2 separate regions of the Homo sapiens genome follow, and region 1 is linked to region 2. The links come from fine-mapping of genetic effects on plasma protein levels. A gene starts in region 2. The other region holds a variant in brackets. All regions are shown on one strand. Distances are between the middles of the regions.

The links. PIP is the chance, under the fine-mapping model, that this variant and not a neighbour inherited with it causes the effect. Sun 2018 read protein levels with aptamers (SomaScan).
Region 1: its variant is fine-mapped to the plasma level of the IL5RA protein (Sun 2018, PIP 0.95).

Annotation. Positions count from the first base shown.
Region 1 is chr3:3,094,835-3,098,834 of GRCh38, forward strand. IL5RA (interleukin 5 receptor subunit alpha) reads right to left here. Exons shown (of 12, transcript NM_175726.4): 6 at 3,303-3,456; 7 at 3,036-3,223; 8 at 465-610. Among named protein-coding and RNA genes, the nearest start is that of IL5RA, 14 kb to the right of the region's middle. The variant G/A (reference allele first, on the strand shown) is at 2,323.
Region 2 is chr3:3,110,199-3,114,712 of GRCh38, forward strand. It overlaps IL5RA (interleukin 5 receptor subunit alpha), which reads right to left and starts at 176. Exons shown (of 12, transcript NM_175726.4): 1 at 1-176.

The sequences.
Region 1 (4,000 bases), 16 kb before region 2:
GCCTCAGCCCCTGCCCCCGAGTAGCTGGGATTATAGTCACGCGCCATCACGTTGGCTGATTTTTGTATTTTTAGTAGAGATGGGGTTTCACCATGTTGGCCAGGCTGGTCTTGAACTCCTGGTCTCAGGTGATCCACCCACATTGGCCTCCCAAAGTGCTAGGATTACAGGCGTGAGTCACCCCACCCGTCTATCATTTTAGATTTTAACCAGCACTAGTACCAATGAGTCTGTATCTAATCCTTTGTATTAGTTTCAACCAAAAGTATGTTCTTTCAAAACAAAAGGCCAGTAAGATTTGGTTTATATCTATTTGGTTATATCTATAATACCTGGGTAGATTAAGTTAACTTTGACCTTGTTAGTACCAAGCTGTAACTTGGTTGCAGTCACTGAAGATAATTTTTTAAATGTTTCTAAAACAAATGTCTGTTATCAAATATTGGAATAATCTGAGTAATTACCTGCAAATATCCATTCCTTGTATTGTGTATTTTTACTTCATAATCAAAGCAATGGATTGGAAAAGCAGACACTGGTTTCTCCCATTGGATAGAGAGACGAGTTCCTTCAATCTCTGCTGTGACATTCAGTGGAGGATTTATTTGATCTAAGTTAGGGAACGAAAGATCAGTGATTTTTTTTTTAGAATCAGTGATCAAAGCTGATAATTCCAATCCACCCACACTTCTCAAGGCATTTCTAAGATACGCTTTTTTCAAATATTTACCATCAGGTCTTAATCAACTGATCTCCAAGCCACAGGAAGCCGGTGGCCTCCCATAATACTCTTGTCTTATAGTGCTGAAGAAGAAGAGACCCTTTCTGGAAACTACAAGGATTACTACTCCAAATAGAGTTGAATGCTTGAATTACTTCCCCCCCTCAGCTCATTGCAAGACTCACCCACCATCCCCCTTTACTACTCAAGTTGTACCAGGCCCAGAATAAACCTGACCACTGAGAGAACATTTCCCTGGACCTTCCACCAAGCCTTGCCTCTTCCCAGTAGGTATGTGGCCCTGAACAAATCACTTCCCCTTTCTGAGATTCAGTTTTTAATTTTAATTTCATTTTGTTTACTGCGTCTTTTGGTTTTTGTTTGTTTGGGGGCTGGAGCAGGAAGCTTCAGTTTTCTTTTGCATCAAAAAGAATGGATTGGGGCAGGGCGTGGGGGCTCACGCCTGTAATCCCAGCACTTTGGGAGGCCGAGGCGGGTGGATCACGAGGTCAGGAGATCGAAACCATCCTGGCTAACGTGGTGAAACCCCCTCTCTACTAAAAATACAAAAAATTAGCTGAGCGTGGTGGTGGGCGCCTGTAGTCCCAGCTACTCAGGAGGCTGAGGCAGGAGAATGGCGTGAACCCAGCAGGCGGAGCTTGCAGTGAGCCGAGATCGCGCCACTGCACTCCAACCTGGGTGACAGAGCAAGAAATCTGTCTCAAAAAAAAAAAAAGAAGAAGAAGAAGAAGAAGAGTGGATTGGGCTAAATTTGTCTTTACTTAGGACTCTAATGTCCTTTCCCTTGAGATCTCACTTGATTGTCTTATGGTCCGGTGAGGTGAGGGGAAATGAATTCTTAATGAGTGTCCTTGTCTTAGGTAATATGACTTAGATCTCACAATTAATAGGGAAAAGCTAGGAGTGGGATCCACTGGCTTCAGAGCCTCCTATACCCTATGAAGAAAATTCTTAACCAAGAAAGTACTTATTTATTTTAGTAATCCTAGGAATCAGCCTCAATAAAATGAAAATCATAAAAGAAAAATGAATTCCTGTGGTCTGTACTAGATCATATCCATTTTCATATTAATATCATTGTTTCCTAGGTCTTCCTCGGCATCTTTTATTGCCTATTTTCATGAAAGTGACATTTTTAGTTCACCTAAGAAATATATTACTGGAGAGAATTGCATAACCTCTTTAGTAAGGGCTATGATTCTTTACACAAAGTTATATTCCATTGGATATAGATATGTCACAGCCAAATCATACCTTCTAAATAATATTGTAGTGTATTTATTAAACCTTTATGCCAGGCACTGTTCTAAGTGCTTTATCATTAGTAACACAATTCTCACGAAGACTGCACAGGAAGTATTGATTCCTCTCCATTGTTTCAGATAAGAAGATTAGGCACAAAGGAATGATCAGCTTGTCCAAGGTCACTCAGCCAGTGGTGGAGCCAGGATCCAAATCCAGGCAGTCTGGCCCCACAGCCCATAATAACCACCCACCATTGAAATCTGGAATCTCCATAACTAAGAATGCCATGTGAGAGCGCCTGATGAGTTTCACTAATAGAACTATCTGGGATGAGG[G/A]AGAGTGTCTTCTCTATTGAGAACTGAGCAGACAAAACCACGAATAGAATTTTTAGAGCTGAGAATTGCACACTGAGAGATATTCGAGCTGCAGAACATCCAGGAGATGGGCCAGAACAGTGAGAAATTCAGAGAGAGAGAGATGTTAGCCTGGGAGAAGAAGGGCTTCTGGATGGGAAACGTGCTGCCTGTGAACAGCTAAGAGAGGCTATTCTATAGGGAAGGGACTCAAATCACCTGGGGTGGCACTAGTCCATCACAGGACCCAGGGGCAGAAATTTCACAAAACCTGTCAGAACTCATGAAGGATTAAATGGTCTCTTTTAAGCAGCTAAATTCACTTTTTCTGGTGCAGTGATTCTCAACTGGGGGAAATTTTACCCCTTGAGGGGCATTTGGCAAAGTCTGAGACTTTTTTAAAAGTCACAGCTCAAGGACAGAGGGGCATACTACTGGCATCTAGTGTGTAGAGGCCAGAGATGCCGCTAAATATCCTACAGTGCCCAGCACAGCCCTCCATAACACAGAGTTGTCCAGCAAAACTCACTGGTGGTGTTGGAATGGAGAACCTTGCCCCAGTGGTTTTCAAACATGGGTCTGATGCTTACTTGGCATCAGAGAAGCAGTAAAACTAGGTGATCTTTATAACCCTTCCTTCCAGTGCTGAGATTCCGAGATTCAGTTATTTCAGCTTTGGGTTAAGTCGGTCTTACCAATGGCGTGAAGGGCAAACAGCTGATCAAAGGGCCTGATAGCAGAGTGCTTGCTGGAGCCGTTAACAAGCACCGCAAGCCAGTCACGCCCTTTGCTGAGGATAAAAGTCCTGGGAAACCAGCATGCGATATTTCTCCCCAGTGTGTCTTTGCTGTATTCTTGGCATTCTTCAGTCCAAGAGCCATACCTAAATTGGAACATTTACGAGTGTTATGAGGTTGCAGGAAACAACCATTTGCCTAAGTAAAAATAGGTACAGTACTAACCTATAGTAGAGAAAATACTGCGTGTCCTCAGGGGCATCTGTGCCAACAAGCCAGGTGCAGTGAAGGGAAACTTGGTATGACCTTAAACGTGAATAATTGTCTTCTGTAGTGTTTGTGGTGCAAGTTAAATTCACAATTGAGGTTCCAGGAGACCCTAGGTAGTCAAAAGTAAAAAGGACAAAACATTGCCATGGCAAACTCTGAATTTCATGCTTCTTTTGGAACTATAGTGATGTGAACGTCGTATTCATCACCAAAAAATAATCATCTTCACATTTTTTTTTCCCTTGAGACAGAGCCTCACTCTGTCACCCAGGCTGCAGTGCAGTGTTGCGATCTTGGCTCACTGCAACCTCTGCCTCCTGGCTTGGAGCGATTCTCGTGCCTCAGCCTCCCAAGTAGCTGAGATGACAGGTGTGTACCACCACACCTGGCTAATTTTTGTATTTTCAGTAGAGCTGGCGTTTCACCATGATGGCCAGGCTGGTCTTGAACTCCTGACCTCAAGTGATCCACCCACAGCCTCCTAAAGTGCTGGAATTACAGGCATGAGCCACCATGCCCGGCCATGATCACATATTTCTAGAAACCTACTAACTACAAAAGGCCAACTTACTGGAGATATGGAATTAGAATTATAAAGTCCCCATTTCTGATATTCGAGAGCTTCCCAGCTATTTTGTTTGGGGCCTGGGGGT
Region 2 (4,514 bases):
AAACGAAAGAATCTCTCGTCCAGATAGCCATTATCTGATAACTGTCTTGTCTGCATTTTCACTCTCTTTCAGAGTTGGTTTGCTCTCTTCAGGAGTGGGAATTAACTTTTACTCATGGTGACAAGGTAAACAAGTTTTCCGTGGGTACTCTAAAGCGTTGCATTTCTGTTTTGTTTATGTGCCTTGTTTGGCTACAGTAGTTACTGTGCCTCTGTCTCCTAGGCAACACTGACACATGATTTGATAGGAAGTAAGGCCTGAGGAGTACCCTCTCCCCACTCACTAGGCAATAGCAGCAATTCTCTGCCCTTAGAGAACCGCCTTAGCTCTTCTCTGCTTTGTGAGCAGGTCTGGTACCCTCAAGTAAATATGTGTGGGGGATGCGTTTCTGGGTGTGATAAATTGCTGCTGTCTGTCACCTGAGATCATCCTACACAAATTGTAACAATGGCAGTGTTGGTCTGTGGGTGCACCCAAGACCACCTTCCTCACGTCACATCCATTTTACCACCCAGCTGTCTTCAGAATGCTTCAATTTCAGCAAACCTCCTTGGCTTTTCCTGTCCTTTGTTCCATTTCTGTTTGATTCCTTCTGGGGAATTTCGAGGTGGCTAGCTAGCAAAGCTGGCTTTAAAAAAGTAGCTTAGCGTGTGAATAGATAAGAGTAGTGCTTATTGTATGACCCACGGCAGAGAGTAGTAAGTAGTTGCCTTTGGAAGGAGACCTTCAGTCTAGCCTAAGCGATGAGTGATGCAGGATTCCCTGTCTCCTTAGGAGCTGACTGGGAGAGTCTCAGACAGAGCAGATGCAGAAAGATGGTGGCCCAGGTTGGATCAGTGGTTCTGTTTGTGAGATGAGAGACAGGCTTCCTGGAGGCAATTTCCAAAAGGCTCAGTGTAGAAGCTGTGCAAGTACAGTCAGCGTGTGTGCCTGGGGTTCCCAAGGTGACCATTTTAGCAGTTGCCAAAATGAAACCGGAGCAATTGTTATCAGGTTGAAAATTGTTGTCAGACCTGAAAAATGTGATTTTCCTCGGGGAAAGGGGAAGTAAAACAAGGAACAGAGAGAGATCCATTTATTTGCTAAGAGGCACCCAGAAAAGTTTAGATATAGTATCAACTATCTGGCCTACTCTTTTAAGTCCTGCCCATCTGTTTATACATGTAACATATTTGTCACTAATGAAACCTTAAAAATACTTATTAATCATTGGGAAGACAGTAATTTCTGGCTTAAAAGCCTGCTTTAATGGCCTCTCTCCGTATATATATATGTATATTTTTTGAGATGAAGTCTCACTCTGTCGCCCAGGCTGGAGTGCAGTGGCGCAATCTCTGCTCACTGCAACCTCTGCCTCCCAGGTTCAAGCGATTCTCTTGCCTCAGCCTCCCGAGTAGTTGGGATTACAGGCACCCGCCACCACGCCTGGCTAATTTTTTGTATTTTTGGTAGAGATGGGGTTTCACCATGTTGGCCAGGCTTGTCTCAAATTCCTGACCTCAAGTGATGCACCCGCCTTGGCCTCTTAAAGTTCTGGGATTACAGGTGTGAGCCACCACACTCAGCCAATGGTCTGTATATTTCTTACATTCATTTACTCAAATATTCATTGAATGCACCTATGCACTATGCTAGGCGCGGTGAAGGGTATAAAGAAAATTAGATCTGGCTGCTCCTTCCATACCACCTTCCTGGGTATATGATCTTTAATTAACTACGCCAATAAAAACAAACAAACAAACAAAGCAAACACATGCTCATACAGAAACACTGTCTCTATGTTTCTGTATAAGCACAAACGAAAAAATGAGAGGCAGGGACTTTTTTTTTTTCTGGCGGGGGGTTGCGGGGGGGTTGTTTGTTTGTTTTGAGATGGAATTTCAGTCTTGTTGCCTAGGCTGGAGTGCAATGGCGCGATCTCAGCTCACCACAACCTCCACCTCCCGGGTTCAACCGATTCTCCTGCCTCAGCCTCCTGAGTAGCTGGGATTACAGGCCCCCGCCACCACACCCAGCTAATTTTTTTGTATTTTTAGTAGAGATGGGGTTTCACCACGCTGGTCAGTCTGGTCTTGAACTCCTGACAGGTGATCCACCCACCTCGGCCTCCCAAAGTGCTGGGATTACAGACGTGAGCCACTGAGCGAGGCCTGTTTGGTTTTTTATGGCAATAATTTAATTCTTTATAATAAAGTGTAAACGTCCAAAGACAGTATGATAGAACATGCTGGAAGAATTCACAAAAGTCGTTTTTTTAAAAAGTGAAATTAAATGTGTCTGCATCCTTTAAGCAAAACAATGTGAGTTTAGCCAAATAGAAATATGAATAGTAATAAAACGAAAATCATGGTTCAGTGGCTCTACCATGAACTTTGGTTAAAGGAGCTTATTAAAGGTATCAACTTCTAGAACTTGATTCCATGGAAATAATGGAAAAATGTAGATCAAGATTTATACAAAAGAGAGCAAAATTCATTGTACCTTTACAATAGTAAAATAGTAAAAGTACTATAGGAATGGTGAAGAGAAATATGTAACTGCTCAAGGTTGAAATATGTGATGTGGATGTCAAAAGGAATGTTTATCAATAACTTTTTTTTTTCTTTTGAGACAGGGTGGTGCCCTGTCACCCAGGCTGGAGTGCAGTGGCAGGATCTCGGCTCACTGCAGTCTCTGCCTCCTGGGTTCAAGTGATTCTCGTGCCTTAGCCCCCGGAGTAGCTGGGATTGCAGGCATGTGCCACCATGCCAGATAATTTTTGTATTTTTAGTAGGGAGAGGGTTTCACCATGTTGGCCAGGGTGGTCTCAAACTCCTGGCTTGTGATCCTCCCACCTTGGCCTCCCAAAGTGCTGGGATTACAGGTATGAGCCAATCAAGAACTTTTAATAACATAGGGTATTATGAAAAAATGTTAAGTAAAAACAACAGGAGGGTATACACACATGTAATTTTTTTTTACAGTCTTATTTTTGGTCAGAAGATCAGACTAACAGGAATAGTTATCTCTAAGTGGTAGGTGTATTAGTCAGCTATTGCTACAGAACAAGCAACCACAGAACCCTCAGTGGTAAACTGTGATAGGCATGTATTTGTAGCCCATGTGTCTGAGTTTTGACTGGGGTCTGCTTAATCTTGGGCTGGGATCCAGATCACAAAGTGAGTTCAGATTTGTTCCAAGTATCTGCCATTCATTTGGAACCAGTGGCTACCCAGGGCATAATCTTTTTATGGTGACAGCAAAAGTGCAAGAGAGCAGGACCAACTGCACAAGCACGCATCAAGCATCTGCTCATGTCACATTCCCTGACATCTCAAGAGGCTGAGCAAATTGCATGGCCAAGCCCGGAGTCAAATGGACGAAGCCCAAAGTACATTCCACCATGATAAGGCCATGATAAGGATGTGGACATGGACAACTCCTAGTGGGGAGTGAAGAAATGGGACCAACAGTTCATTCTACCACGGCAGGGTTAGTGTTTCTCTTACTTTTATTCTGTGTTTCTATATTTACAAACGTTTTATTCTGTACAAATGCAGGCAGAAAAAGTTATTTTAAAAAATATTAGAGACATACAGATCAATTTAATAGAATTGAGAGTCAAAAATAAACTCTCGCATTTAGGGTCAATTGATTTTTGACAAGAGTGTCAAGACAATTCAGCGGGGAAAAGATCAGCCTTTCAATAAGTGGTGCATATCCACATGCAAAAGAATGCCTCGCAGCATAGACAAAAATGAATTCCAATGGGATCAAAGACCTAAAAGTAAGAGGCAAAACTATAAAATTCTTAGAAGAAAACATAGGCATAAATCTTCATGACCTTCATTTTGTTTCTTTCTTTTTTTTTTTTTTTTTTTTTGAGACAGAATCTTACTCTGTCGCCTAGGCTGGAGTGCAGTGGTATGATCTCAGCTCACTGCCAACTCCCCTGCCTCCTGGATTCATGCGATTCTCCTGCCTCAGCCTCCCGAGAAGTTGGGATTACAGGCGTGTGCCACCACACCCGGCTAAGTTTTATATTTTTACTAGAGATGGGGTTTTGCCATGTTGGCCAGGCTGGTCTCGAACTCCTGATCTCAGGTGATCCACCCACCTTGGCCTCCCAAAGAGCTGGGATTACAGGCATGAGCCGCCGCACCTACCCAATGGTTTCTTCAATAAGATACAAAAGCAGACACAACAAAAGAAAAAAATAGATAAACTGGATTTCACCAAAATTAAAAGCTTTTGTGCTTCAAAGGATACCATGAAGAAAGTGAAAAAAGACCGGATGCAGTGGCTCACGTCTCTAATCCCAGCACTTTGGGAAGCCAAGGTAGGCAGATCACCTGAGGTCAGGAGTTTAAGACCAGCCTGACCAGCATGGTGAAACCCTGTCTCTACTAAAAAACACAAAAATTAGCCAGGTGTGGTGGCAGGTGCCTGTAATCCCAGCTACTCAAAGGCTGAGACAGGAGAATGGCTTGAACTCGGGAGGCGAAGGTTGCAGTGAGCTGAGATCGTGCCACTGC